3 separate regions of the Homo sapiens genome follow, and all the other regions are linked to region 3. Evidence: fine-mapped expression QTL. A gene starts in region 3. Each other region holds a variant in brackets. All regions are shown on one strand. Distances are from middle to middle. Region 1 has its middle 33 kb from the start of MAN1A2. Region 2 has its middle 59 kb from the start of CD2. Region 3 holds the start of CD2 (CD2 molecule).

Region 1 (10,412 bases), 580 kb after region 3:
AGTTCAAGACCAGCCTGAGCAACAAAGTGAGACCTCCGTCTTTCCAAACATTTAAAAATTAGCTGGGCATAGTTGTGCCTGGCTGTGGTCCCAGCTGCTTGGGAGGCTGAGGTGGGAGGATTTCTTGAGTCTAGGAGGTCAAGGAAGTCAAGGCTGCAGTGAGCCGGGATCATGCCACTGCACTTCAACCTGGGCAACAGAGCAAGACCATGTCAAAAACAAACAAACAAAAAAACCATTGGCAAGAAGAAGTGGTTACAATAATTTGGAAAGAACCCTTGCTCTAGGCCGCTTGCATTTTATTAAGGGTGAGTCTTCAACCTTCCCTAGCAGGCTAGGATTATTCTGTCAGAGCCAAACCCCAGATAAGTCAGGCTTGCAGAAAATGTGTATTCATCTACCTGGTTCTATGAGAACCAGGGAACTAGTGCTAGCTCATGCCACTATTCTATTGAACTGCTTATTTTTGGTTTGTGTTATTAATATGCATTGTTTAACTTCTTCAATGAGATTATAAATTCCTGGGTGGAAGTGATGCTCTGGGAAATACCTCTTCATTTTTCCCAGAATGGATTAAACATAAAAAGTACACTTTTTATGGTACTTGAATGAAATGGAATCAAATATATATATATATATAAATAAAATGGTAGATTTTGGCAATTTGGGGTATTTATTTTCTGTAACAAATAAATCAATAAACAAAAAATGGAAGTGTCTTCCCTTTCCCTTCCCTTCCTTTTCCTTTCCCTTCCCTTCTTCTTTCTCTTCCCTTCTCCTTTCTGAGCAATTCCATCCTAAATCCATTGTATGGAGCAGAGAAAGGTAGACATCCATTCAGATGGGTGGCCTGGTGTGGGATGTCAGAGCCCAGATGGGATGGGGGCTCTACTCAGGGACAGGGGCAGCAATGATGATAAGATATTGGCTATATACAGGGGATTTGATCTAATAAAAAAATTAAAAATAATGGGAACTAAGGTTCTCGTTGTAGAAGAGAGTTAGAAATAAGGAAAGGGAGAAAACTAGAATGAACACTGTGGTGTTGAATTGATATTGGAGATACCAGTGTGAACTCATGGATTTCAGTAAATATATGTAAATATGGAAATAAATTCAGATGTAAATGTGTTTATGTATATCTTTGTCAATACGTGTGTGTCTGTGTGTGTCTATCTGTGTGTATATTCCTTACCTAAATACTTTTCTTTGTTGTGTTTTCAATTCCACATTTAATTCATCTGGGATTTATTTTTATGTGCAGTATGAGATGGGTGCCACATTTTTTTGACCAAATAGCCAGCCAATTTTCCCAACACTGTTTATTAAACAATTCACCTATCTTCATTGATCTGAGATGCTTCCATTCTGATATGCACATATTAGGTTGACTGTAAACATCTTAGAAAAGCAACATTGATCTTGTTAATGATGGAGCAATGCTGACACATCTCCATTTCTCCTGCTCTAACATCTTGGGCATCAATAGCCTATTTCCAACTGAGTGTTCAAAAGACATCCTTAAGGTCAACATTTCCCAAACTAAACTGATCCCATTTGTCTTCATGAATTCCTGACCTCAGAAAACAACATCATCAGCAGCCTAACTGCCCAGTGATCTTTCAACTACTCTGACCCTGTCCTCCCCTCTCACTGTTAAATCTCTTCCTTCTTTCCCTATTCTCTGCAACTCCTGAGTTTGGACTTTTCTCATGAGCTATTATGATTATATTATATTTGTTTCCAATGTAATATTGAAAATCTTTCAAAAATTGAAAGAATCCATGAGAAAATAAAGCATTTGGCCTGTTTGACAGTCAGGGCTGATTTGAAGAATCTGAGTGACCAGATCCCATCTAATCTACCTTTCACACTGATTTCTGAATAATAAATAGAAATAATAAGTAAATAAATATAATATAGTCATATGGGCCTGTGCCTGTGATTCTGCAACTCAAAAACCTTCAAGTCTGTGTGTTGTCTTAAACACCATAGCTGAACATTCAAGGTCACTGGGGTTGACCTTCTAGATGTTCTTTCTTCTGCCTGACTTGCACTTTCATCACTTGTATTAAGCTCCGGTCCTGGAACATGCCAAATATTTTCCCAATTTTGTACTTTTTTGCCTTGCATGGAAAGCTGCCCCTTTCCCCTCTATCAAAAATTGTATTATCTTTTAAGGTCCAGCTTAAACACAGCCCTCTTCCATAAAGTGTTTCCCTAATCCTCCAGCTGGAATTATTACTTACCACCTGTTTTCAAAGCACTATGTTTGTGCTGTATTGTATTATGTGTTTCATTATGCTTAGTATGGAAGTGCTATAACCTTGGTTTTCAGATCCAGATTTTAGCCCCTGAAGCCAGGACTGCATCTTTGTTACCTCTGACCACTGCCTGCAGCTAGCAGTTTTAGTACACTCACTTTGGCACCTAGCTAAGTGCTCTTACCCCTCTCCTCCTCTTCCCTTCCCTTCCATATTGATTTAATGAGCCGCAATGTATACCAGGCACTGTTCTAGCACTTAGGACACTGTGATGAACCAGACAAAGTTCTTGTCCTTATGACGCTTATGTTTTACGAGGAGTCTTAATTAACCCTTTCAAGAACCCTGTGACATAGGGGCTATTGTAAATTACTCAGGAGTTGAGTAACATATTTGGTAAGTAGCATAACTGGAATTCAAACTCAGATCTATGTGATATCACTTGTCCCTAGCACCATAGCTTGTTGAAATATTTGTGGAACTGGGAATAAGTTTGGTGCTTCAAGAGGATTAAATAGGATACTCCTCTAGATGCTGAACTGAGAGGAAAACAATTATGTGTCACTACTGAAAAAGCCATGACCCCCTTTGCTCTCTCCATATGCTCAGGAAATAAATATAGAAACCAAGTCTTATTGCCAAGTTTGATCTTCAATTCTAACTGAGGGCCCATGTTGCTTTATTACAGAAAGTTGAAAAGAAAGAGAAACTCACATTTTTTTTGAGGTAGATGCATCCACATATTTTATTTTTTTAAAATCTTCATAAAAACAATGCAAGGTAGATATTGCTGTCTCCATTTCTACAGGTAGAGAAACAGATCCAGAGGGGTTAAATAACTGTCCACAATCATGGCTATTTCCTGGTATTATGTTTTGAACAGGAATTTTATAAGCCATACATAGAACTTATATCAATTGAGTCATTTTAAATGTACATGGAGAAGATTCTATTTAAAGGACTTCTATAAAAGGTAGATTAATTCAATAAATGGTGATGGGATTTACTGATTTGCCATTTTGGGGTTAAAAAAAAAAAAGACAAGTAAAACTGGATCCTTATATCATCTCTTATACCAAAATAAATTCCAGATGGATCAAAGATTTACATGTAAAACATGAAATCACAGACATCCTAGAAGAACACATGGATGCATATTTTTATAATTATAGAATGGGCAAGACTTTACAAAATTTAACCCTGGCTGGGCATGGTGGCTCACGCTGTAGTCCTAGCACTTTGGGAGGTCAAGGCAGGCAGATCACCTGAGGTCTGAAGTTCAAGACCAGCCTGGCCAACATGGTGAAACCCAGTCTCTACTGAAATACAAAAATTAGCTGCACATGATGGCAGGTGCCTGTAATCCCATATACTCGGAAGGCTGAGACGGGAGAATCACTTGAACCCGGGAGACAGTTGTTGCAGTGAGCCAAGATTGTGCTGCTACACTCCAGCCTGGGCGGCTGAGTGAGACTCTGTCTCAAAAAAAAAAAAAAATATATATATATATATATATATAAAAATATATATATGTATGTATATAAATATATATATGTATGTATATAACCCCAAGCCCAGAAGTTACGAAAGATAAGATTAGTAAATTTGATTATATAAAAATTTGAATTTTGTATAGCAAACTTTAGTCTCTTTAAAAAAAAAATAGGCAAAGGTTAGCTGGGCGTGGTGGCTCATGCCTGTAATCCCAGCACTTTGGGAGGCCGAGGCTGGCCGATAACCTGAGGTTGGGAGTTCGAGACCAGCCTGACCAACATGGAGAAACCCTGTCTCTACTAAAAATACAAAAAATTAGCCGGGCGTGGTGGCGCACGACTGTAATCCCAGCTACTCGGGAGGCTGAGGCAGGAGAATCTCTAGAACCCAGGAGGCGGAGGTTGCAGTGAGCCAGGATCGTGCCATTGCACTCCAGCCTAGAAAGCAAGAGCGAAACGCCATCTCAAAAAAAAAAAAAAAAAAAAAAAATAGGCAAAGGCAAAAAGAAAATGAGGAGAAATATTTTCTTTCACTTTTTTTTCTTCTATCCTTTCTTACCTTCAAGGAAAGGAGAAATATTTTCTTTGGTTTCTAGACCTTAGGTAGATCTCACCAAAGGACTGCTGGGCTATTTGAAGCCAAATCCCTGCTAGTAATGCAGCACTGTATGGCCTGGCCATGTCTCACATGACAAAGTGATAGTCACCAGCCAATCAGAAACAGAATTGGGGATCAGTATCTATCCTGGACTGTATGTTTCCTGCAAGTCTCAAATTACAACAGAATTCACAAATTACTACCTGGGGACTTGATGGAAGAAAATAATGTGATTCACTGCTTGAGGCTTCAAAAATTGAAAGAATGAATGTGGAAGTAAAGCATTTGGACTGTTTGATAGTCAGGGCTGATGTGATGAATCTGAGTGACCAGATCCCCAGAGCTCCCTGTCATTCCTTCTTGAAGCTGGGTTTCGGTCATAGGAGAGGGAAGAAAAGCAAGAATGAAAGGGCAGGTGAAATCTATTTGATTCTTGGCGGAAAACTAGGTTTTCTGTGTGAAGTGGTGCTTTACTATTTTTGAAGGATACTTACCTGACAGGAAACTATAACTGAGTTTATGTGACTTTTCTCAGCAAAATTATGGAACATCTCAGTATAGTAAACATTGGGGACTGGGTTAGAGGGCTACAGGGGACTTGCCGTGTATTTGTGTTACATTTATATTTGCCAAGTGCATATCCTCTCTTAAGCTCTTGCTTAGGCATAACAAACGTGAGCTTATTTGGGATGAGCAATAGATATTTTATTTTGTATAGCTGTGCTTCTATTCTCCATAGTT[C/G]CACTAGTATTTAAATTATTTTCTAATGAGACTTTCTGCATTATGCTGAAGCTTTGCAATAGGAAGACCGGAGTTTAGGAAGTCCATTGACCAACCCCAGCCTAGTCATCTTTGCTTTGTAAGGGAATCTCAGTGTTTGTCATTGACCCAACCCAGTCTAGTCACCTTTGCCTGTGATAGAATCTCAGTGTTCGTGGGGTGTGTGTCAGAGTGAGAAAGAGGGATAGTTGAAAGAGGGGAGCATAATCAAAGAGCTCTAACACTTTGAGGCCCAGGTGGCTCTGGTGTGGGACATCCTTAAAGGAATATGACTCTGGTAATCTTTGCATTTCAAAAAAGATTAAGCCTGCTGCAGTGGCTCATGCCTGTAATCCCAGCACTTTGGGAGGCCAAAGTGGGCAGATCAGTTGTGGTCAGGAGTTTGAGACCAGCCTGGCCAATAAGGTGAAACCCTGTTTCTACTAAAAATACAAAAATTAGCCAGGTGTGGTGGTGGGTGCCTATAATCCCAGCTACCCGGGAGGATGAGGCATGAGAATCACTTGAACCCAGGAGGCAGATGTTGCAGTGAGCCAAGATTGCACCACTGGGCAATAGAGCAAGACTCAGTCTCCGAAAAAAAAAAAAAAAAAAAGATTAATGAGCTGTCACAGAACCCTGAGAATGAGACATGAGACATGGAGAAGACAGTGGAAACCAGGTGGATCTTCACACCTAAAAACTTGAATAAGAAGACAAGGGAGAGAAATTCCCAAGCACACCTTATCAAGCTGGGCAGTTTCTCAGTGCCAGCCTCATTAGCGAGCTGGAGTGGATGTGCACAAACACTCACATTACTTCATGGAAACAGTTAAACAGTGGAACCCAGAAAAGTTTGGACTTAGGGCAAATCAGCAAGGGGACAGGGTGAGGGCAGGAAGACTGCGCTCAGAGATGTTGCAATTTCGGTATAAATGCCTATGAGGCCTCCCAGGCAAGAGAAGTCTGAATATTGTTACATTTTAGGGTTCATCCAGGATTTTCCTGAATCCTAATGCTGTACACCTCTGTTGCAAGGACAAATTATTCCCTCTAAGAATTATGGTCAACTAGTATTTGGAAATGTTGATACTGCAGGAAGCCTAATGCATGGAAATGGGTGTGGAATCTGAGCTTGTTTGTGACTGCCAGTGAATAGTGAAGAGCCTGAAATGAAAAATACCTGACAGGTTCCTTGAAAGACCCTGGAAAGGGATAAAATGCTTGGCAAGTTTTTTAGGAAGGGGGAGGAAGCAAATGTAGCCTTACTAGAGCTTAATACTTTGCACCCCTGGAGGGATGTTGGGAAAGTATCTGGAAACTAATCTTTCAGCCCTGTCTTTTTTTTTTTTTTCTTCTGAGATGGAGTCTTGCTCTGTCACCCTGGCTGGAGCGCAATGGCACGATCTTGGCTCACTGCAACCTCTGCCTCCCAGGTTCAAACGATTCTCCTGCCTCAGCCTCCTGAGTAGCTGGGACTACAGGAGCATGCCACCATGCCTGACTAATTTTTGTGTTTTTAATAGAGATGGGGGTTTGGCCATGTTGGCCAGGCTGGTCTTGAACTCCTGACCTCAGGTGATCCACCCGCCTCAGCCTCCCAAATGCTGGGATTGCAGGCATGAGCCACCATGCCCAGCCTGAATACTGAATTTCTGTACAGACTGAAGCTATTCCTAGATCAAGATAGACAAGGAATGTCAGACATGACGCAAATCCTTAAGTAATAGTTCACCCAGTGGATTTAAACCTAAGCAGGCCATGTGTCATATGCATATGAGCTCAAGTTCTGGAACAGACATGGTGGAAACCATGGAGGTGAGGGGCAAAAGCCAGGTGTGTTTCTCAAGAGTATCACCACAGCAGCCCTGGGAGGAGAGACATTTAAACTCTGGCTAGGGAAAACCTGTGACACTGCGAAAACTGCATGTACCAGAAGTGAAGTAGTAATAGCCCCAAACACAATCCTAACAATAGCTTACATTTACTGGTTGCTTACTAGGTTGCAGGCATTGTGTGGAGCACTTTACGAGCTTTATCTCATTTAGGAAATTGAAGGGGGTTGATGGAGAACTTTAGAGGCTTGACATTTGAGGTCATATATATCCTAAGGGATATTGTACTTCAATAAGAGTGGTAAAATGTTCAAGAACTCTTCAGGAGGTATGTGGAAGTCCTATAAACTGTAGAGCTACACATGTAAAATTGCTAAATTATCAGTGAACAAATTTTTTAAAAGCTTACTTTTTAAAACTGGAAATCCTATGGTGGAAGATGGTCAAGAAGAAAGCATGGATTAGAGTCTCTGTGAACAAGCAATCATTGAGGCTGCCTGGAACAGAACACTTCAATCAAAGCCCCAGCTGCCAGTCCCAGGACAGGCTCCTAATTCCCTCCAGCTGCCAAGACTAGAGACAAGCAGCATGAAATGCCAGTCCAAATCAGGGGGGAGTCACCCAGACCAATTGGGACAGTCACTTAACTGCTAGAAAGGCAAAGGCCTTACTTCACCCTAGGGCTTCTGAGAAGTCTGGTTAAGTGGCCTTCTGCCAGCTTCAAGGGTCAGTTAGCCAAGAAAAAAAATGCGAAAGAGGGTGCCCATAAAACAGCTAAACAAAACTGTGCTTTCATGGATGGTGCAGAGAACAAGGCTGTATGCAAACAGAAAATGATCAGGATGAAAACCCATCTTTACTATTCCCAATATAAACTAGCATTACAGTGAGTCAGACATGGCAATGTGGGCCAGGATATGAACTGGTCGTATCACAATAGCAGTCCTTAGGCATGCAGAGATTTAAGGATATCAGAGTAGAGTTGAAAAAGAACATGGAGAGATTTGGTGTTCAAGCAGTGCAGGAGAGTGGATCCCAAGCAATGATTTCTTCTCAGTCTCCCCATGACCCATACCTGACCTACCTCCCTTTGCAAGAATCTGATGGATTAGGGTTTGTGGTTTTAGCATAAAGGTTACCCCAACCTGCATTTTTTGTGGGAGGACAGGGTCTTGCTCTGTTGCCCAGCCTGGAATGCAGCAGCACAATCACAGCTCACTGCAGCCTCAATCTCCTGGGCTTAAGCAATCCTCCTGCCTCAGCCTCCCAATTAGCTGGGACTACAGGTGTGTGCCACCATGCCCAGCTAATTTTTTGTTTTGTTTTGTTTTGTTTGTTTTGTTTTTTTTTTTGAGACAGAGTCTCATTCTGTCACCCAGGCTGGAGTGCAGTGGCATGATCTCGGCTCACGGCAAGCTCCGCCTCCCGGGTTCACGCCATTCTCTTGTCTCAGCCTCCCGAGTAGCTGGGAGTACAGGTGCCCACCACCACGCCCCAGTAATTTTTTTTGTATTTTTTTAGTAGAGTTGGTGTTTCACCGTGTTAGCCAGAATGGTCTCCATCTCCTGACCTCGTGATCCACCTGCCTCACCCACCTCGGCCTCCCAAAGTGCTGGAATTACAGACATGAGCCACTGTGCCTGGCCACTAATTTTTTTTTAACTTATTTTGTTGCTCAGGCTGGTCTCAAACTCCCGGCCTTAAGCAATCCTCCTGCCTCAACCTCCCAAGGTGCTAGGATTACAGGCATGAGCCATCACAAGCAGCATCCTTATGCACTTTGGAGCTGTGGGTAGGGTTCCAAAGGCTTGAATTTCCAGAAGGAAGGGAAGAAGTGGATGTGGATGTCAGTGGCTGTGTGCTTGAAATGGAAAGATAGGACCAAGTGAGAGGTGAAGCCAGCTGGACTTCCTGGGTCAAGTGGGGACTTGGAGAATTTTTCTGTCTAGCTAGAGGATTGTAAATGCACCAATCAGTGCTCTGTGTCTAGCTAAAGGATTGTAAATGGACCAATCAGTGCTCTGTAAAATGGACCAATCAGCAGGATGTGGGCAGGGCCAAATAAGGGAATAAAAGCTGGCCACCCCGGCCAGCAGCAGCAACCTGCTCAGGTCCCCTTCCACGCTGTGGAAGCTTTGTTCTTTCACTCTTCACAATAAATATTGCTGCTGCTCACTCTTTGGGTCTACACTACCTTTATGAGCTGTAACACTCACCGCAAGGGTTTGCGGCTTCATTCCTGAAGTCAGCAAGACCACAAACCCACCAGAAGGAAGAAACTCTGGACACATCTGAACATCTGAAGGAACAAACTCCGGACACACCATCTTTAAGAGCTGTAACACTCACCACAAGGGTCCGCAGCTTCATTCTTGAAGTCAGCGAGACCAAAACCCCACCGGAAGGAATAAATTCCGGACACACAAGGAGGAGCTGCATGAATAAGAACCTACTCCAGTTTATTACAAGTACTTCCTCCACACTATGGGCAGCATGTTGGTATCACAGAGATCTGGACATTCTCTTCACCCACCCCTACAGCCCAAAGCCTACAGGAGATAGGCTTGTGAAGGACCCAAAGGCATCTACTGGGTCCCCAAGAGTAAACTTAGAAGTATTAGAGCATTCCACTGCTAGGTGAAAAAAGAGATTAAGGGGAATATAATTCCCTAAAAACAAATGTTCCCTTTCTGTCAATGAGACTAAGTGGTCTTCAGGGAAACAACATAAAACAGAGCTGCATGATCCTTTTCCCTCTAGGGGAAAAGTTTGCAAAGATTGTATTGCTTGGGTAAATGAGATCACCTGAACTAATTCCTAATTGATAAATGACAAAGTTTTGAAGTCTCACGGCCTGTATGCCTTCTCTTCATGGCAGTGGGGGGAAAAATGGGTGAAAAAAGTGGTGTACATTTTAGCACTCTAAATAGATGAATTAAACCAGATCAGTGTACACGATACCTGCCCCAGAATATTAACCTGATGGACAATCACTGATTATCAGTGTCTCTTTGAGGAGACTGTGAAAACCTTATGATGACTGAAGGGAATAAAAAAAGACCATGAAATAATCTGTGTATAATTTCAACTGGAAAAATTTGGAAGTGGAATGAGTTGTCTCTAGGCCTAGATGTTATTAGCAAGTATGCTTTAAAATAACATATAATGCTATAAAGCAATAGGAAGATAACAAAAGCTGTTGGAGGGGGTGGGGCATGGTGTCTCACACCTGTAGTTCCAGCACTTTGGGAGGCTGAGGTGGGTGGATTGCTTGAAGTCAGGAGTTCAAGATAAGCCCAGCCAACATGGCAAAACCCCATCTCTACTAAAAATGCAAACATTACTCAGGCGTGGTGGTGCACACCTGTAATCCCAGCTACTTGGGAGGCTGAGGCATGAGAATGGCTTGAACCCAGGAGGCGGAGGTTGCAGTGAGTTTAACATTGCACTCCAGCCTGGGTGA
Region 2 (10,412 bases), 59 kb after region 3:
AGTGGCGCCACGAAAATAAACCCATTTTTTTCCCCAAATTCTGCCAACAAAAGGGCCAATGAATGTCAAATTAATGACTCATTGAAAGTCCACTGCATCCTGTTTCTGACTTCTTGGAGGAAGTAGACCCCAAGATTTCCGAGAACATTCTTAGTAATTTCTCCACCAAGCACTCCTTTCAGATGCTTACAAGAGTGACAATGTCTCCATTATTATAAGCCTGAGACTCAAAGACATCCTGGAGTGTGATATTTGAGTATTGTCAATCTGTTTCTAGTTCTAAGTGCAAATGGTCACAGTTTGGAGTCGTGCCATAGGCCTCACCTTTTTGCTTGTTCTTATGTAACGGGATCTTGCAGGTACAAACAAGAAAGATGCATTACATAACAGGAGAAGATGTTTCTAATTGTTGAGATCGATTTTAATACTGCGTCAAATAAACTGGCAAAATAACAGTGCCATGTGTACTGAGAGCACAATAAGTAAAAGAAAAAACTATACAAGTCACAGCACATACAAACGGCTGATGCTAAAACATGTTCAGTGAATCACTGTGCCCAGCAGGGACAAGCAGGAACTTCTAAGAAGATGCCAGAATCTTCCAAGTATTGGGTAATTCCACACAAATTGTCTGCCCTGATCATGGTGTAAACCGTGGATTATTCAGAATTCTTTATAATGCTGTGGACTGAGTTCCAAATCTTAGTTTTCAAAAGCGAAATTTGAGACAGGATGTACGTACCAATAACTTAAATGAGACAAGAAATCACTTTGGGGAAGCTGATAAACACATCCCTTCAGGCTGGAAGTGCAGGCTCAGGCCTGTAATTTCAGCGCTTTGGGAGACCAATGCAGGAGGATCGCTTGGGCCCAGGAGTTTGAGACCAGCCTGGGCAGTACAGTGAGACAACGTCTCTACAAAAAATAAAAAAATTACCCGGGCGCAGTGGCGAGTGCCTGCAGTACTAGCTACTTGGGAGGATGCGGTGGGAAGATGACCTGAGCCCAGCAGGTTGAAGCTACAGTGAGCCGTGATCACATCACTGCACTCAAACCCAGGAGACAGAGCAAGACCCTGTCTCCGAAAAAAAAAAAAAGAGAGAGATCCCTTTAGCTAAATATGTCTGCACTATGATTGTGCAAACTTGCATATTTTACTAATAGTTTAATAAATTCAATAAAATCATTGTGGCAACATACAGCAACGATGTTACCAGACTAACGACAGCAGCTAGTGTCAGAGATAAAACTGAAACGTGTGAAATCGAAATGAAAACCAAAGTTAGATTTACTGTTTTTAAAACTGAATATGCCTCTATCAGAAACAAGAAGTTACATGAAACTTTGTAAAATGTCATAGATCAAAATATCCTAATATAAAAACTTACTGGATAACTGATAAGTATTTTCTTCCAAATAGTGGAGATTTATTATCTGAGAAATCAATTTATTCATACTCTCCACATAGAATGCTAACCAATTAAGGAATGACAGCAGTTATTAGAGTTTCCTAATGATTCGACTTTGAAACAGAAGACACTCTACTATTCCCCTTTTGAGACTCTAGAGTAATTAATAAGAGAATTGTTAGATTTTTAAGCAAGCTATCCTTTAAAAACATGTGTTTGTTAACTTCTATTCATCATAATTAGGATTTTCTCAATGTTATACCTTCAAAACCAAACACAGAAATCAACTGGCTAACATGAGACTCAAACTGTTATCCACAACCTCTGACTTAAAGTTATTGTGCTCATCAAAACAGCCTCATTTTTAACTGATAGACTTCAAAATAAATAAATGGCATACACTTGAAATAACAAACCAGTAAAATATTAGGGAATCTGTCCAAGATTTTAGAGTTGATAAAATTTATTTATTGCTAAGAAAAAAATGTTAAAACCAGTGGAATAAACTTTAGTTATGAGGTGTTTGGGGTTCTAGAATTCTAGGATATCATCATGGTAGCGGGGGCACTCTCTCTGTGTGTAAATAATTGTAATTAATTGTAGATCTGCAGAGTTCAAAAACTGCATGATAAAATGACATTTGCTTTAGCTAGGACACTGTTGTATTCAGTACAATTCTGTATTCAGGACAATTCAATTCAATTCTATTCTATTCAGTACAATTTTGTATTCAGGACAATTCTATGATATAGTAAACAGCCTTCTAGGACTAGTTGGAGCGTGAGCCATAAGCCACAGGGCCAAGGATTTGTCTTGAGTTACGAGTGAACAATGATAACTGAGTAAACAGCCTCCCTAATTTTGTATAGAATTATTCATGGAGGCTGCAATGCAGGCATTGTGAGGAAAGGTGAAACTAGGGGAATCATTCTTCAGCCTTCAGCCCTGGACGGTGTCACTGTGAACAAAAGCAAACCAAAGGCATATCTATGGAGTAAAGCCACTGGGAGTCACCCACTGGGGAACCCACTCAATGCTGATTACACTGATGTGGTTTCTCTTGGTAAGGGACCCATCAAAGGGTTTTACCCAGAGCCAGGGAAGCTGCATGGCCTCTTGCCGATAATCACACATGAAGAGTAGCAGGAATTTCTATGTGGCTAAGATAAAGTACGTGAAGAAATGCTTAAAAACTGCTTGGAGTAGAACACAATTTACTTTAATGCAAAAGCAGTGCCCAGGAAGCTGAGTGAGATGTAAAGGCAGAAGTCTAAAAGGGAGAAAACTCAGTAGGCAAAAATCACTAAATGATTTCTACAAAATCATTTCCTGAGCACCCACTTTGGTATATAATATGCTTTAAGCTTTTCACTACTCTGCCGGGCGTGGTGGCTCATGCCTGTAATCCCAGCACTTTGGGAGGCTGAGGTGGGAGGATCACCAGGTCAGGAGTTCGAGACCAGCCTGGCCAACATGGTGAAACCCCATCTCTACTAAAAAAAAAAAATACAGAAATTAGTCACGCTTGGTGGCGTGGGCCCGTAATCCCAGTTACTTGGGAGGCTGAGGCAGGTGAATTGTTTGAATCCAGGAGGCAGAGGTTGCAGTGAGCCGAGATCGTGCCACTGCACTCCAGTCTGGGCAACAGAGCAAGACTTCGTCTCAGAAAAAGTAAATAAATAAATAAATAAATAAATAAAAATAAACTTTTCATTACTCCTAAGGAAAAGTAAGTCTCAGAGTCTCCTTTTCTTGGCCAGGGTCACATGAAGAGTAAAGGACCCCCTGTGAGATTTGAACTCAGATCTTATGACTGATGGCAAGTCCAGGCAAGGGTCTTTCCAGGTCACTCAGCACTTTTCTGATACATTGTAAGGAAATTTGCAAAGACTTTCAATGCCTGTGTGGAAAGCCTCTGAGTACCTGCTGAATGTTAATACTCTGGGCAAGGCCCGTGACTGCCATCCTTGGAATGACCTACTTTGCAAGGTTGGCCATTGGTTGGCATCTGGGAATTTGAATTGTAAACAGTTCCCTAGACTGATATAAAACTTTTCTTAAATGACAAGAGTGGCTCACTGTGCCTAAACTGTTTGCTATGCTGAACATCTGATTTTCTTCTGGGAGTCTGGAATTTTCCTACTTGTTAGGCATAGACTGTCTACATGACCAGCCTCCAGTAAAAATCTTGAACACTGGGTCTCTAATGAGCATCCCTAGTAGACAACATTTCACATGTGTTGTTACAAGTCACTGCTGGAGGAATTAGATGTCCCTTGTGTGACTCTACTGGGAGACTCTCAGAAGATCATGCCTGCTTTCCTCTGAACTTTGCTCCTTTTCCCTCTGCTGATTTTACTTTTCATCCTTTTGCTGTAATAAATGATAGCATGAGTACAACTATATGCTGAGTCTTCGTAGCAAATCATCAAACCTGGGGGTAGTCTTGGGGGCCCCAGTACACTGCCTCAAAAATAGCAAACGTAATAGTGATGAATTTCAAGTCATTGACATTTTCTTTCATATTTAATTGTTGATTCACATAATACTTGTGCAGGGTATTAAAATTCAGCAAGTACTCAAAGGCTTACAATAAAAAAGGATAGCCTCTTGTTTATCTCTTCCCCATACCTTCAATTTTACTCCCTAGAAAGAACCATGTTCATGACTTTTAGACTTTTCTTCTGATATTTATATTATTTATATTGATACATATGCTTTTACTTAAACTTTTGACATTATTTATCATGTTTCTCCTATAAAAAATGAGGATTTAACTATCTTACAACCAGTCCCCCAACACACCCATGTGAACTTTTCTCTTCCTCCATTCTCACACAGTGGTTTTTGGCATGATTTTTGGTTAAATAAACATTCAGTGTTTACATTATTTTGCCCACCTACTCTTCACAGCTGAGCCACAAAA[T/C]GTACCGTGATTAATTTCCTTTCTTAAGTTACTTTTTAAAATGTCCAGAAGATAATTTTTTTATATTTTTATTTGTTCTGTCACCAACTCTTCCTCTAAACTCTGTCAAACTTTTAAAATTTCTCTCAGTGACACAAACACAAAAGGTAATTTATCATATTCATTTCTTTTTTTTAAGATACACCTTTCAGAGTTCTCTGACTCTTCTGCTATAAATGTGTCATCCTGGGAATATCTCTGCTTTGCTTCTGTGTTGAATGCCTTGTTCTGTAGCTCTCATATTCTGCCATTTCTTCATTTGATGGAGCACATCCTCTAATGGCCTCCTAGAAATGTTATAAGGGAGTGAAATGTTTGAGACTTGCATATCTAGGAATGTGTTTATGCTACTACCCTTACACTTGATTGACAGTTTGGCTGGGTATACGATTCCAGTTTGCCAATCATTTCTCCTTAGAATTGTGAAGACATTCCTCCACTTTACTCTAGATTCTGAGCTTGCTGCTTGTTAGCCTATAGGATTTCTGATTTTAGGATCTTCTCTTTTTCCAACTATAAAATTTCACAATGATGTGCCTTGGTGTTATAGTTCTGGGAACTCAGAAAGTCCTTTTCAATTGGGAGACTCAGATCTTTCAGGTCAAGATTTTCTTGTATTACTTTCTTGAAAAATTTATTATTCCATTTTATCTGTTAACTTTTTCTAAAATGCCTACTAGTATAATGTTTTACTTCTTGCATTGATTCTCTAAGTTTTGCATTTTTTCTGCTTTTTTTCATATCTTGATCTTTTTGGTTACTTTCTGAAGATTTCTTCAACATTTTCCAATATTCTGCTGAATTTTTATTTCATGATATTTTTACATTTCCCATAGTATTTTTTAATTTTTTGAATGTTTATTTTATATTTTTCTGGTTTCGTCTTACGGATGTAACATCTTCTGACGTCTCACATGATACTAAGCCCAGGGTATTCACCCTGCTCCACTTCTCTGTTACTAAAATTTTGTTACTAAAATTGTCTTTCATGGCGAACACTTTCCTCAGATCCCTTGTGATTCTTAGTTATCCATTTACATTTATCAACAAGGAACTAAAGAGCTGATTGTGTGCACAGGTGGAGCTTGCTATCCAATGGGCTTCACTGCAGTGCTATAAGGTAGGAGCCTGGCCATTTTGCTGGGGAGCCTCAAAGTGTCAGGTCTTTTCTCTTGGTTTCTCCATAGAGGAATCCTTCTGCCTGGGAGATATAATTCTGGAAGCGAATGTTCTGCGAATTGAGAAAGGAAGGAGACTGGATGTCACCTTTAAATATAAACTTTTTCACTCGGTCCCCATTTTCAAACCTTTGTACTATATCAAACACATTCTATTAACAAAGCCCAACATTGAACCAATCAGCAAGGGAAAAATCCTCACAGGATCCAGCTCCAGTATAAACAGATAACTGGCACATTCACCCTTCCTTGGCCTGTTATCTCTGAGTTTGGAGTCTCTTTGTCAATTTCTTAAGCATAAGTTTTTGTTTCCTAGTGGGGTGAAGGAAGGGACCTGGGGTCTGTTTGCTGCTTACACGGACTGTGAATCGATGCTCCTCTTTTTATCTCCACCTCTTATCCCTAAGTTTCTGGTGCCTCTAATCTGTGAGTCTCTATGAGGCTCACTTGAGCAAATTGGCTTCCCATTATAGCTTCCCCTATTGCACATGGAGTTTCCTCCATGCTGCTATATCATTCAGCATTTGTCTACCCGCTTTAAGACTTCCAAGCTTTTGTTGACATCCTTTTTCTAGGGTCATCTTTTCTCATGTTTTCTTTGTTCTTGTGGATTTATGACTTTTACAAAAATTGTCATTTTATTGGAGTTCCAGATGGGATAAAGATAACTATTCCTTAAATTCCCCATGTTTAACCTACCAATCTTTTACTGAAAGTTTAAGTATTTATTCATAAATTAAAGAAAACTAGTTCGATTAAGCCGTGATTAATAACAAATCATTTTTAGTTTGGAAGGTATTTAATTTACTTCCATGGGTACAGACTTCTTCAAATCTTACTCTATAACTATCAAAGATTGGTCCAAGAAACACAAGCATCAAAATCAACTTATGGTATTTGTTGAAAATGCAAAAACATGAGCTTACCCTAGACTGTATGCATCAGAGTCTTTGGGGATTGGGCTAAGTACTCTGCATCTTAAACACATTTCTCAGATGATTAACAACTCTGAAGTCTAAGAACCACTGTTCCATTTTGTACTATTAATAAGTGATAGAATCTTTTGATTTGGCATTTTGGTGAAAAAGTACATTTTATTAGGAAAAGAACCCCCAAAAATGACTCTCAAATAATAATGTCTTATTTGTAGTTTTTTATCCATATCTTGTTAAGTCTCGCTTATTGGCCAAAACCACTATAAAAGAAAGCATCATCAGTCATCTGTTGTTTTGCTACCTGAAACTTAAGGAAAGAGTCTCAGAATTCCAGCTCCACAGATTCAGACACATGAAAATGACAACAAACGTCACTGCCTCCATTAGACTGGGGGTGAAAATGAATGCATGTTCCAAGGCCTTGATGAACTAAACTAATTATGCAAAGTGAAACCCTCCATTAGTCTTTTGTTCCAGTCCTAGTCTCTAGCTGACTGTAAAGTGGGAAATCAACCTTTATGGGTTCCAGGAAGGCCTGAAAAAGGTAACAGCAACCTTCCCCCCTCACCCTCCAGGCCTTGGCCACACAGCGACAGGTTTTGTTTTGTGGCAAAATATTTTGTACTCAAGATTATTACTTTTTCTTTTAAAATAGTAACATTAATGTTCTTTCTGCTTATAAAATTAATACATACTGACTGATGAAAAATTAGAAAACTGAGAAAAAAATGAGAAGAAAATAAAATTTACCCAAATCCCAGAGATAGCCAGTGTTAACATGGTAGTACATTCCCTTCTAGTTCTATTTCTGCACATCCGTGTTTTAACACAGTTAAGGACTTTGAAGCAGTTGTATACCCTGCTTTTTTTCTACTTCTCATTTTGTAAGCCTGTCTCCACATAAAGTTCTTCGTACACATATTTAAAGGTGTATAGCTACCCATTCATTTGGCCACTCCCCAACTGCTGGATATTTAAGTTGTTTCCAACTTTTTGCTGTTACAAATAACATGATATTCAGCTTTTTATATAAGTTTTGGCCCACATTTCTAGTTTTTTCCTAAGGATGCATTCCTGGAGGCTATGAATATTTTAAGGCTCTTGATAGAAGCTGTTACACTATTTTTCAGAAAAGTTCTTTCAAGACACTCTTTTCTACTAGCAACAAATGAGAGTGTTCCTCTCATTACAGTTTCAACAGCTCTAGATATTATAAATTTTTTATCAAAATAACATAGATTATTTTAAAAATCAGTATTCTCAAAAGACATAATAAAAGACACCAGTCCCCTGGCCTACCGTGCTCTGCCCTCCTGTTCACAGCCCAGATGCCACTACTCTTAATGTTTTTAGATTATTTTAGGTATTTACAATAATATGTTTATTTCATAATTTCAAAATTTTAGACATTATCTATTCATTTACTGCTGCAAAAGATTAGGACTTAGCTAATTTACATCAACTCCACACTTCCTCACTCTTTTCTTCTCACATCCTCCCAATAAACTTATATCGCTGTGTTTAAGCAAAGCAATAATAAATCTACAATTATTAAGTAATATAACAATAATATCTTGTTATAATTACCATTAATATATTTGTTATGTTATAATTAACAAAATAATAATTGTTGTAACTGCACAAATATTATTCAACACGTTGTATATTAATATTATGCATTGACTTCTCTGTCTCTTTTTCTTTAGGCTGGCATTTTTAATTGTGCTTTTCTTCTTGCATTGTTCTCCTTATAGTTCACATTTGGCACCATTACATCAAGTATTCTTTTAAGTCTCCCATTTTCCTAAAGATCTTCCTGCCAAAGTTCTTCATACTCATGTTTTAAGATGGACCAGGAATCAAATTATTATCTAAACAGAATTCTAATTAATCTAATTTTTAATTCTCTGACTCTGCCTTTTGGTGCCGGAAGTTTCTGAGCCTTGAGGTGCTGCGGGCCAGCCAGCTGTCATCCTGTCTGCACCCTACGGTGGCTCTGTGGGCACATCAAGCTGTGGTTTCTTCCAGCCTACTCTTTCAAACACCAGTTTGCAAGAATTCTGTTGAAATTTCTCACTCTCAGATAGCCCATATCCCAGTGATTCTCAACTCATGGTGAATTTGTCCCCCAGGGAACATCTGGCATACTGCAGATAATTTTCGGTTACCACAACTGAGTTGGGGTTGCTACTGGTGTCTAGTGGGTAAAGCCCAGTGATGCTGCTAAGCGTCCTGCGATACACAAGACAGCCTTCAACAACAAATAATTATTTATCATTTCAGTAGCTTCTCAGGATAAAGAAGAGGTTAACATGTATATTCAAATTGACATCTTTTTTTTGAGACGGAGTCTCGCCCTGTTGCCCAGGCTGGAGTGCAATGGCGAGATCTCAGCTCACTGCAACCTCCTCCTCCCAGGTTCAAGCGATTCTCCCGCCTCAGCTTCCCGAGTAGCTGGGATTACAGGCGCCCGCCACCACGCCCGGCTAATTTCTTTTTTTTTTTTTTTCTTTAGTAGAGACGGGGTTTCACCATGCTGGCCAGGCTGGTCTCAAACTCCCAACCTCAGGCGGATCCGCCTCGGCCTCCCAAAGTGCTGGGATTACAGGCGTGAGCCACCGTGCCCGGCCTCAAATTGACATCTTTATATCATTCAAGTTCTTGGAGATTGTTTCTTCAGTCATAAAATGAGATTGGTCCTTACTACTATTAGGACTAAATAAGATGATGTACAAACAGGATCCAAAGCATAAAATTTTTTCGAAACTAGTCAGAAGTTATTATTTTTAAAAATGTTTTGATAGTTTGGCAGATTAAAAATGCTACCTTGTTTAAATTTACATTTTTTGTACTGGTGAGGCTGAAATACTTTCATGTGTTTATTTTGCAATCTGCATTCATTCTGCTGTGATTTGCCCAAGTCTTTTGTTAACATTGATTGACAATAATATGTTTATTATTACCCACAGGCTCTGGCCCTGCCAGCATGTGACTGCAAAATACAGTCACATTTACTTTAATATTGAAATCACTCTGAATCACTACATCACAAATTAATAAGAAATTTGCTGTTTACCTAGGGTTTCTCTTCCCAAGTGACTGTGATTCCCCTGAGTTAAATGGCTGTCCTCGTCACTTGCTGCCCCCTGCTGGGAGAGCAGAAACTCACTCAACACTAGAGGGGCTGCACTCCATGGCTATCTGGGGACCTCCCCACACTTTCTTGGGATGGCCCCACCTGCTGGTCTCCTAGGCTTCCCACTCCACCATTTCACACCTGGTGGTGGTGATTAGACAACCACGTCAAAGCTCTGCAGGGCTGCAGAGATGGAGCCCAGCTGGACACCTTTCTCTAACTCTCCTAGTACTCTCTTGTTTTCACTGCCAGCTGCAAGAATTGACCAGATCTCCCAGATGAAGATGAATCCTCCAAGATATAATAAAGACCTCAGTATTCAAGTCATCTAGGAATGTCCCATATTGAAAATGCCAAAATCCCAAGTGATTCAGCTCTTTAGTGATATATGTGTGATTAGTAGTTTTATATATAACATTTGTTGAGCATTTATTATGTGCTACATATAGCACTCAGTACTTTACATCAATTGTTTCATATTTATTCCTCATTTAAATATTAGGAGTTATGCATATTATTATTATATGTCCTCTTCATAGATGAGACTTAGACAGAAGTAGGCAACATGCCAAAAGACACACCACCACAAATCCAATTTAGGACTGTCAGTCCTCAACACCTACATTTTACACAGTTAAGGGGCTATTTTTTTCTATTTGCATATACTGTACTCATTTCCTCTAAGACCTACTTGGATGGAGTAGGTTGCTTCTGGGTCCAGACTCTCTCCTTTTGAAGGTACCATAGTTAACTCCTTCACTCTGATCTCAATCAGAGCCACCCCAGTCC
Region 3 (10,412 bases):
CAGAGGCAGGGACTGCACCTGCCTCAGCACTCAGAACATTTACCGAAGTGACAGGTCCACTTAGAATTAAACATAATTCAATTGAAGGACAATACGTGTTCAATTTAGATATATTAGAATAGCAACAGCAAGCAAGGAGGGCAGAATAGTAGCTATTATCCCACCACACAGGGACCAACACCCTGGGGACATTCTGCAAGAGATGCACCCAACACACGCTTTTTGAGAAATAAAATGGGACTATATTGTTGACTGTGAAGGGTACCAGAAGATGCTGATGTAGGACAGGTAAGCCCCATTGGGGCTTAGCCTGGAGTATTCTTGGCTTCACTCAGGAAAGAATCAAGGGCGAGCTGGTGGTGTTTGACAGCAACTTTTATTGAAGCAGCAGCAGAGGTACTGCTCCTTGCAGAGCAAGTATACACCACAGGCAGTGTGCCCAGAGTATCAGCTTAAAGGCAGTTCTGCAGTCCTATTTATACCCATTTTAATTATATGCAAATTAAAGGGCAGATTATGCAGAAATTTCTAGGAAAAGGGTGGTAACTTCTGGGTCGCCAGGTCATTGCCATGGAAAAAGGTGGTAGAAGTTGGTTATTGCCATGGCAACAGTAAACTGACATGGCACACTGGTGAGCATGTTTTATGGAAAGCTGCTTCCACCTATCTCTGTTTTAGCTAGTCCTCAATTTGGTCCAGTGTCCAAGCCCCACCTCCAGAGTCAAGTTCCACCTCCTACTTCAGTGCCACCCTAAAACATGCCTTTTTAACATATGGTTTTTTTTTGAGCAAAAGGCCATCATGAACCAGCAGAGGCAGTAAAAGCTTTAAAAACATGGCACAATATTTTTCTTTTGTAAAGAAAATTTACAATTTCTGAAGAAAATAGCCGTTTGTAAAAGGTATCTCCCTCTCCTGTATCAGGAAGAGGAGGACTCTTAACAACTCTTATCAATGGAGAAGGCATTGGCTTCAATCTGCATAACAAACCTTACTAAACACATCTTGTTGTTTGGCACACTTTTCCTGGTCATTGGGTAACTTGCCTCCCCAACCTAGAAGCCCCAAATCGCTTTTTCTTTGTTTAGTCTAATATACTCTATAAGTCCAAGTTCTAACATCCCTTTGGGTTACTCACCACTGGGTGCTCCCATGTTTATGAGGGATACACATCTTAATCAACTTCAATGTGCCTTTCCCTTCTTAACCTGTCTTTTCCCAGTCTGGTTTACAGGGCTCCAGCCAGAGAACCTAAGACAAGAAGAGGAAAAAGATTACTTTTCACCTCTCCTACAATTGGGACCTGTTTTTGTCATATTCCACAGCTTGTCTATATCATGATTTACTTAACCAATTTCCTTCTCTTAGACATTTAAATTGTTTCCAATTTTGTCTTTAAAATACTGCAGCATATAAATTTATAGCCAAGTCTAGTACATAGCCTTCATTATTTCCTTATGATAAAATCATCCTTGTGGATTTGTTAGAAATCCACAAATGTTTGATACTCTAATTCACACTGACAAATTGCCCACCAGAAACTATACCTACTTGCAATTCTCCTGGCCATATACAAGAATGCCCATTTACACCATCATCAACACTATGTTTTCATTTTTCAAATGAAGATGAAAAATGCATCTATGTTAAAACTGACATTTCTTTATTAATAAATAGAAATAAAATTTTTCTTTTGTGGATTGCTCCTTTTATGACTTTGACCCATTTTAGTTTTAAGGTGTCTATCTTTTCTATGTTTACAAGAAAAATTTAATACTAAAAATTTAATGTTGGCCAGGCACGGTGGCCCACACCTGTCATCCCAACACTTTGGGAGGCCAAGGTGGGAGGATCACTTGAGCCCAGGAGTTCAAGATGAGCCTGGGCAACATAGTGAGACCCCCCGTCTCTACAAAAAATAAAAAAATTAGCCAGGCATGGTGCCACATGTCTGTAGTCCCAGCTACTCAGGAGGCTGAAGCAGGAGGATCACTTGAGCTCAGGAGGTCAAGGCTGCAGTATGCTGTGGTGCTGTGGTCATACCACTGCACTCCATCTTGAGCAACAGAGCAAGACCCTGTCTCTAAAATTAAAAAAAAATTGTTATGCCTTTGTCATGTATCTTGCAAGTAATTTGCTCCTTTTAGTACGTTGTCTTTAATTTTTTTATGGCTTTTTACATAGAAAGTTTTCACATTTTACAGAGTCAAATCTACTGACCTCTTTCTTTTTCATTGTTTCTGCCCTTGAAGCCATGCTCATCACTCAGAATTGAATTAGTTTTAGAGGAGCAAAATTAATGTTTCAAATAGAGGAACAGAAAGCTGCTCTTCACATGCTCCATGAGGAAAGTGTGAGGAAGAGAGGACAAGCGCCCTCCAAAGCTGAGATGGGTCAGAGGATGGCTGGCGCCACCTTCTCTCCACCAGGCCTTGACACACTGGAGTTGGATGGCAGCTGGTGGGTCAGCCACTCACAAACAGGAAGCTCCATGCTGCTCCTCTGGGTTGGCGATACTTTTGAAAAAATACGTGTGCCCTAAGCATCCTTTCTTAAAAAGACATTTTTTATTAACAAAAAAGGTGCTTATTTCCAAAATTTTAAACTTCACAGAAATAAATAAAATGTGAAAGAAACATAAAATCCTGGGACCCCAATTCATTATGCCAAAAGGAAAAATTAAGCTGAAAGTTGAGTCACACAAGAAACTGCCTTTCCTTGAGTTCCTAAGCAGAGAGTTACAGATAAAAAGCTGCTGTCTCCACGGGTAGCTACTCTATGTTCACCTTATCTTAAGAAAGTGCCAATTTACTGAGCATGAGAAGAATACAAATTGACCATTCCCCTACCTACTTTTTTTCTCTTGCAACATATGGATTCAGTAATGTGACTGTACCCTCCCTCCTTCCCCTCTGGCCAGCTTTTCCCCTTAACTGAAGGTTTTGAAATAATCTTGAGAAAAAGGCACAAACCACAGATTTTTCCTGTGGTTCTGTGTTCCTTTTTGTCCCTAATGTTGATGAAATAAACTTCTAAATTGATTGAGATCTGTCTCAAATTCTTTTTGGTTTACAAAGGTAAGAAGTGAAAATTTCATTTCAGTTCTCTCACAATCTAATACCTGAAAGACAAGCACTGTAAAAAAATTCAGCATCAACCCTTTCAGGCTTTTTTCCAACACATACCTTAATAACAACATAGTATGCTATGGTATACTGGTATACCCATAGCATAGTATAAACATAGTATCATATATAAAAAGGACTAATCCTATAGATATTGTTTTGCAATGTGCTCTTTTCATGTGATTTACCAAAAGCATCTTTCCATGTCTTACTTTTAGGCCTATGTTATACTATTTTGATGGTTATACAATATTTCATAATATGGATATACCATAATTTTAGTTGTTTGCAATTTTTTATTACAAAAATGCTACAACAAACGTCCTTGAACAGAATTTTAAAACATCTGTGCAATCATTTCTGTGGGATAGATTTCTCAAATTAAAATCACTAGGTGAGAAAAAGACATAAATTTTAAAGTTTGGTGGAAATGATAAATTCCTTTCCCCAGAAGGTATTGATTTACATTCCCTCTGATGTTGTATGAGGGTTCATTTCTCCACACACTCATGTTAATAATGTAAATTATCATCTTTTCTAATTTTACCAATCTGATGGTGAAAAATGGTATTTTATAGCTAAGATATATACATATATTTTTGGTCACATTAGACTCCTCTTGTAGGTTTGATATTTCTTCTGCGAAATATTTCTTCTGCAAGCTGATCATTTATATCATTTGCCCATTTTAAAAACTACTTTGTATTGATTGGTAAGAATTATTGGTAAGAATATTTTGAATATTAATAATTTTATATATATTGCAAATATTTTGTCACGCCTTTTCATTTTGTTCCTTATTTCTTCATCTGCATGTAAATCTTACTTCTTTATATCATCAGTTGTGTTCATCTTTTCTTTCTTACTTTGGATTATATGTTATATGTAGCCAGGCCTTCCATACTCAAACTATAGGAATATCTTTCTATATTGTCCTTTTAGCATTATTGTTATTATTTTATTTATTTAGTTATTTATTTTGAGACAGAGTCTCACTCTGCTCCCCAGGCTGGAGTGCAGTGGCACAATCCTGGCTCACTGCAACCTCCGCTTCCCAGATTCAAGCAATTTGCCTGCCTCAGCCTCCTGAGTAGCTGGGATTACAGGCGCACATCACCACACCTGGCTAATTTTTGTATTTTTAGTAGAGATGGGTTTCACCATGTTGGCCAGGCTGGTCTTGAACTCCTGACCTCAGGTGAGGAGGTCCGCCTCGACCTCCCAGAGTGCTGGGATTATAGCTGTGATCCACCACCCCCGGCCTCCTTTTAGCATTATTATAGTATTTTTGCATTTAAAACTTTAATCCAACTGTAGTTCATTATTGTGGATGACGCTCATACAACCATGAGGTAAATATTTGGCTTTCTTTTACCCAGTAACAGCAAACAACTGCTTTGACTTAATTTCATTTCCTTGGCAACTTTCTGACAGATAATATCCATATTTGTACTTAAAGTTGAAAAAGAAAACGAGCACCACTTTTGCAATTTTTACTCACTGTGACCTAAAGAATTATAACCCTGAAAATGTGCTTTGGAAGTCTGTCATGGTTATTTCTCTTTTTAGGCATCTTTTCAGGGCACACCCGTCTCTGCATCACTGTCTGTTTCCTTGTGTCACAAATTTCTGTTCTTTTTTTCTCTCCCTGTTCCCTCTCATTTATTTTTTCTCCTAATCTCTCCTTTTTCTTAACCACCTATAATGTTAATCACTTTAAATGCTTTTGACTCCTTTGTTTTGGTAGTTTAATTATATTTCATAGTCTCTATGCTTCTTTGTTTTGGAATAAGTTTTTATTTATCTAACTGTGAATTTCACTAGAGTTGTAAAATGTATGCCGAACATAGGATTTGGGGATTGCAAGCATTTACAGCTGATATTCAATTTCTTTCTTTTCACCACAAAAACGATTTTAGAACATGAAAAATATCTTTGGAGAAACAAAAAAATCAATTTCCTCATCATTTTATGGGTCTACATTTTTCAATATAATCATATGGGATAAATGTTTGCATTCTGCTATTGGCTTGTGAACATTTACCTATATTTCTATGTGGTCTTGTTAGGGACAGTATACCTAAGTGGATAAAAGGCTGTGTGGTTGAATTTGGCTTCTTGTTTACAAAAGAGTGATCCTTAGTGATCTACTTAGCCTCTCTGTTCCTTTTCTCTTTCACTGAGATGAGAAAACCTATCCTTCCCAATTTTTTTGTGTGAGAATTAAAATGCAGCAAGAAAACACACACTCATAAACACATCTGCTTTGGCAAAGGAGCACATCAGAAGGGCTGGCTTGTGCGCGCTCTTGCTCTCTGTGTATGTGTATTATGTTTTATGTTACTGTAAAAGATGTAAAGAGAGGCACGTGGTTAAGCTCTCGGGGTGTGGACTCCACCAGTCTCACTTCAGTTCCTTTTGCATGAAGAGCTCAGAATCAAAAGAGGAAACCAACCCCTAAGATGAGCTTTCCATGTAAATTTGTAGCCAGCTTCCTTCTGATTTTCAATGTTTCTTCCAAAGGTAAGCATAAGAGTCAAAGAAGTCCCAACCCAGCTTTCCCTGAAAGTGACTCTCAGTAACTCTTTTGCTTTTTATAGGTGCAGTCTCCAAAGAGATTACGAATGCCTTGGAAACCTGGGGTGCCTTGGGTCAGGACATCAACTTGGACATTCCTAGTTTTCAAATGAGTGATGATATTGACGATATAAAATGGGAAAAAACTTCAGACAAGAAAAAGATTGCACAATTCAGAAAAGAGAAAGAGACTTTCAAGGAAAAAGATACATATAAGCTATTTAAAAATGGAACTCTGAAAATTAAGCATCTGAAGACCGATGATCAGGATATCTACAAGGTATCAATATATGATACAAAAGGAAAAAATGTGTTGGAAAAAATATTTGATTTGAAGATTCAAGGTAAGTGTTCATTCCCTTAATTGCTTTATTTCAGTGTGGGTGCTATTTGGCAAGTTGGAAAATAGCATTTCTAATATTCCCCAGCGCTGACCTCTGCCTCCAGGGGGGCTATACAGGAAACCAGATGCATGTCTCCTGCCCCAGTGGAGACTGTGGTCCAATGCGGGAATGGGATCCACACATCTGATAGACCCTCAAGTCTACCTGCCTACAACTCTGTCTTCAGGTGGTTACAGGAATGTGGGGTTGGGTGAAGAACCTGGATTAAGGTGGCATTAATCGGGAGGGGGACACAGGTAGGCCGAGGGAAAAGGCAACTGTTCCAGGTTGCTGATGAATCGGCGAGCTAAGAGTGGGGCGAGAAGAAGAGGCTGACTGGAGAGCAGCGGGCCTTTCATCGACAGAGCCCATTTCAAGCCAGGCTGCCCTGAAGGAGGAGTTATATGGCAGAAAAGGGCTGGAAACAACATATTTAAGGATGAACAGCCCTTATTTTGGATCTGCTTGTCAGAGTGATACAAGGTGGCAGGTGATTTTTGCTGATATGTGTAGAAGATGCACAAGGTGTGGCTTTGTATATCTCTGCCTGTACTGGGAGGACAGGAGTGGATATTGAGGATGGGGTTAGGGAGACTAGTTAGAAAGCTGCTGCTGTAATCCAAGTGGAGTGAGGACCAATTAAATCAGATTTTTTTTGCATGCGGCCTGGGTATCATTAGGTTCTAAAGCTCCCTGGGGGATTCTAATGAGCTGCCAAAGTCAATCGCCACTGGCCTAGACCAAAGGGTGCCTCTAAAATAGGAAGAATGAGGATAATAAGGGTCAGGCATAGAGAAAGGTGGCTTAGGCAAGGGAGAGAAGGTAGAGAAAGTGGAATCGAAATGCCATTGAAGTTGAAAGCCCGGGGGGATGCTGGGGAAGTAGTGACAAGAAGGGAAAAGAAGAAGCTGCGCTTGACTTGGGGAGGCAGACAGGAACCCCAGCATGAGCACAGGCCAGCCATTCAGTGAGCAAATAAGCATTTCTGTGCTTCACACAGAAAATATCACCAGAAGCAGGGACCCCACCTTCTTCCTCTCTGTCTCCAGCCCCATCTTCAGCACCTGGGCCTACCAGCAATCCCAGATAGTGTCAGATTGCCCACTCCAGCAATCCCAGACACTGTCAGCTCCCCTGAAGTGACAACTTTCCACACCCTAGTCCTGCAACCTTGAGTGGAGAGCACCTTGTAGAAATGTAGTGGGGTTGAGCATGGCGCTGAAAAGGGCCTCTGATTATGGGCTCTGGAAACCACAGATCTCAGGACTCCAAACAGCACAAAACTCGAGTGTCCTGTTTTGAGTGTGAGCCCTACGCGGGGGACCATGCTGGTGTTTTCACATTTGGGTCGCATTTAGCATTGCGGCGGAAATAATGGCTACCAGTTAGGGGTCAAGTGCTTGCTTACATGATCTTATTTAAAGCGCCCAACAATACTGAGACCTAGTTGTTATTATCTCCTTGTTATATATAAGAAAACAGAGACCTAGTCAGAAGCAGCTTGTCCAAGGTCTCATTGCTTGACAGGAGCAAAGTCAGGATTCAAACTCAGAGGTCTTTTTGGCAAGAATGACGACCTTTTCTTTTTTTTTCCAAGCAGCTTCATTGAGATAATTCATCTACCATTCAATTTGTCCATATACTAAAATGGCCTTCAGTATATTCAGAGTTTTGTAACCATCACCACAATCAACATTTTCATTGCCCCAAAAAGAAACCCTTCACCCTTTAGCCGAAAGACAGTGACTTGCTTTATGTGTGTGCACGTCAATGTCATACAACATCTTGATTCAACTTGTAGTTGGTCACTATTACCAGACTTAAGGTGACCATGGCCTTGGGCAAATTCCCTATCTGCTGTGAGTCTGCTTTTCCAATGACAACTTCAAGGGATATTCAGTGAGACAAGGTGTGTACAAGTGTCCTGCAGTGCCTGGGGCACAATGCCTGTTTTCTCAGTGCTAATGCCCTCCCACATCTCTTTGTTTCTCCAAGCTTCTCTTTTTTTTTTTTTTTTTTTAATTGAGATGGCATCTTGCTCTGTTGCCCAGGCTGGAGTGCACTGGCATGATCTCAGCTCACTGCAGCCTCTGCCTCCCAGGTTCAAGCGATTCTCCTGCCTCAGCCTCCCAAGTAGCTGGGATTACAGGCATGTACCACCACGTCCGGCTAATTTTTGTATTTTTAGTAGAGACGGGGTTTCGCCATGTTGGTCAGGCTGGTCTCAAACTCCTGACCTCAGGGGATCCGCCTGCATCGGCCTCCCAAAGTGCTGGGATTACAGGTGTGAACCACGCACCCGGCCTCCAAACTTCTCAAACTCCAGTAGTTGTGCCTGCATTTCCTTCATGAGGGAGTTGCTGCTGCAGGCTGAAGAGGCAATGGAGGGCCCCTTAGAAGCAGATGCTAGTAGGGAAGGGGTTAATCCCAGCAACTCAGAATTAAGGAGTTCTCATCCATGGAAGGCCTTAGGTTGGATCAGTTCTAAGACGCTATCTTAGTGAATGTATACGGAGGTACTACTCCACAAGGGTGCCCATCACTGCATTATTCATGTTAGCGAAATACTAGAACAGTCAGCAGTTAGAAACTTATTAATCAGTTAAATTAAGAATGCATCCTTTAAAAAGATGCATATATGCATTTATTGATGTTCATTAAGAAAAGAACTTCATAATATAATTTCACAATAAAGGGGAAAAGGCAGACTGTAAGATCACATAAATTAGTTTTAATTTTTAAAATATTACATATATATATATAGAGAGAGAGAGAGAGAGAGAGAGGCAGACAGAAAGAGACAGGGTCTCACTCTGTCGTCCAGCCTGGAGTGCAGTGGTGAAATATTGGCTCACTGCAGCCTCTGCCTCTTGGGTTCAAGCAATTCTCATGCCTCAGCCTCCTGAGTAGTTTGGATTAGAGGCGCATGCCAACACACCTGGCTAATCTTCATATTTTTAGTAGAGATGTATTTCACCATGTTGGCCAGGCTACTCTTGAACTCCTGGCCTCAAGAGATCCGCCCACCTTAGCCTCCCAAAGTGCTGGATTACAGGCATGAGCCACCTCTCCCAGCTGAAATATTATATTATTTATATATATACATATAAATAGAAAATATCTGCTAAAGATATACATGAAAATATTATTCATTATTGACTTTGAGTGGTGGCGTTGTGGGTAATTTTTAATCTGCTTTAAACTTTTAAAAATATTTTATCAGCTTGTACAATGATTGGAGTTGAAAGCCCACGGATGCTGGGCAGGGAGTGATAAGAAGGGAAAAGAGGAAGCTGGCTTGGGGAGGAAGACAGGAACCCCAGCATGAGCACAGGCCAGCCATTCAGTGAGCAAATAAGCATTTCTGTGCTTCACACAGAAAATGTCGCCAGAAGCAGGGACCCCACCTTCTTCCTCTCTGTCTCCAGCCCCATCTTCAGCACCTGGGCCTACCAGCAATCCCAGATAGTGTCAGATTGCCCACTCCAGCAATCCCAGACACTGTCAGCTCCCCTGAAGTGACAACTTTCCACACCCTAGTCCTGCAACCTTGAGTGGAGAGCACCTTGTAGAAATGTAGTGGGGTTGAGCATGGCGCTGAAAAGAGCCTCTGATTATGGGCTCTGGAAACCACAGATCTCAGGACTCCAAACAGCACAGAACTCGAGTGTCCTGTTTTGAGTGTGAGCCCTACATGGGGGACCATGTTGGTGTTTTCACATTTGGGTCACATTTAGCATTGCGGCGGAAATAATGGCTACCAGTTAGGGGTCAAGTGCTTGCTTACATGATCTTATTTAAAGCGCCCAACAATACTGAGACCTAGTTGTTATTATCTCCTTGTTATATATAAGAAAACAGAGACCTAGTCAGAAGCAGCTTGTCCAAGGTCTCATTGCTTGACAGGAGCAAAGTCAGGATTCAAACTCAGAGGTCTTTTTGGCAAGGATGATGACCTTTTCTTTTTTTTCTAAACAGCTTCATTGAGATAATTCACCTATCATTCAATTTGTCCATACACTAAAACGGCCTTTAGTATATTCAGAGTTTTGCAACCATCACCACAATCATGTTACTGTGTTGCTGTTATAAGTAGAAAAAAAATATTTCCATTCTGAAGAGACGGGCAAACTTCGTGACCCAACCTCTAGACTATGTACTAACTCTGTTGCTGAATGTTGATAATTTCCATTTTCTTCCTTCTCAGTAACGCAGAATCTTGGGATGAGAAGAAAACTTTTAATTTAATTTCTGCATGCCTATATATATCGGGACATAAATGAAGTTTGACTATGGTGTTCCATGGGGAAAATATTGGTGTCTGGAA

Evidence for each region.
Region 1: its variant is fine-mapped to the expression of CD2 in whole blood (INTERVAL, PIP above 0.99).
Region 2: its variant is fine-mapped to the expression of CD2 in whole blood (TOPMed, PIP above 0.99).

The regions. Positions count from the first base shown.
Region 1 is chr1:117,328,745-117,339,156 of GRCh38, forward strand. No RefSeq gene overlaps it. Among named protein-coding and RNA genes, the nearest start is that of MAN1A2, 33 kb to the right of the region's middle. The variant C/G (reference allele first, on the strand shown) is at 5,097.
Region 2 is chr1:116,808,129-116,818,540 of GRCh38, forward strand. No RefSeq gene overlaps it. Among named protein-coding and RNA genes, the nearest start is that of CD2, 59 kb to the left of the region's middle. RefSeq lists an enhancer at 9,519-9,813. The variant T/C (reference allele first, on the strand shown) is at 4,336.
Region 3 is chr1:116,748,906-116,759,317 of GRCh38, forward strand. CD2 (CD2 molecule) reads left to right here and starts at 5,525. Exons shown (of 5, transcript NM_001767.5): 1 at 5,525-5,648; 2 at 5,726-6,046. The coding sequence starts at 5,588. RefSeq lists promoters at 3,045-5,642, 5,200-5,642, cis regulatory regions at 3,275-3,774, 4,112-4,141 and a silencer at 3,775-4,278.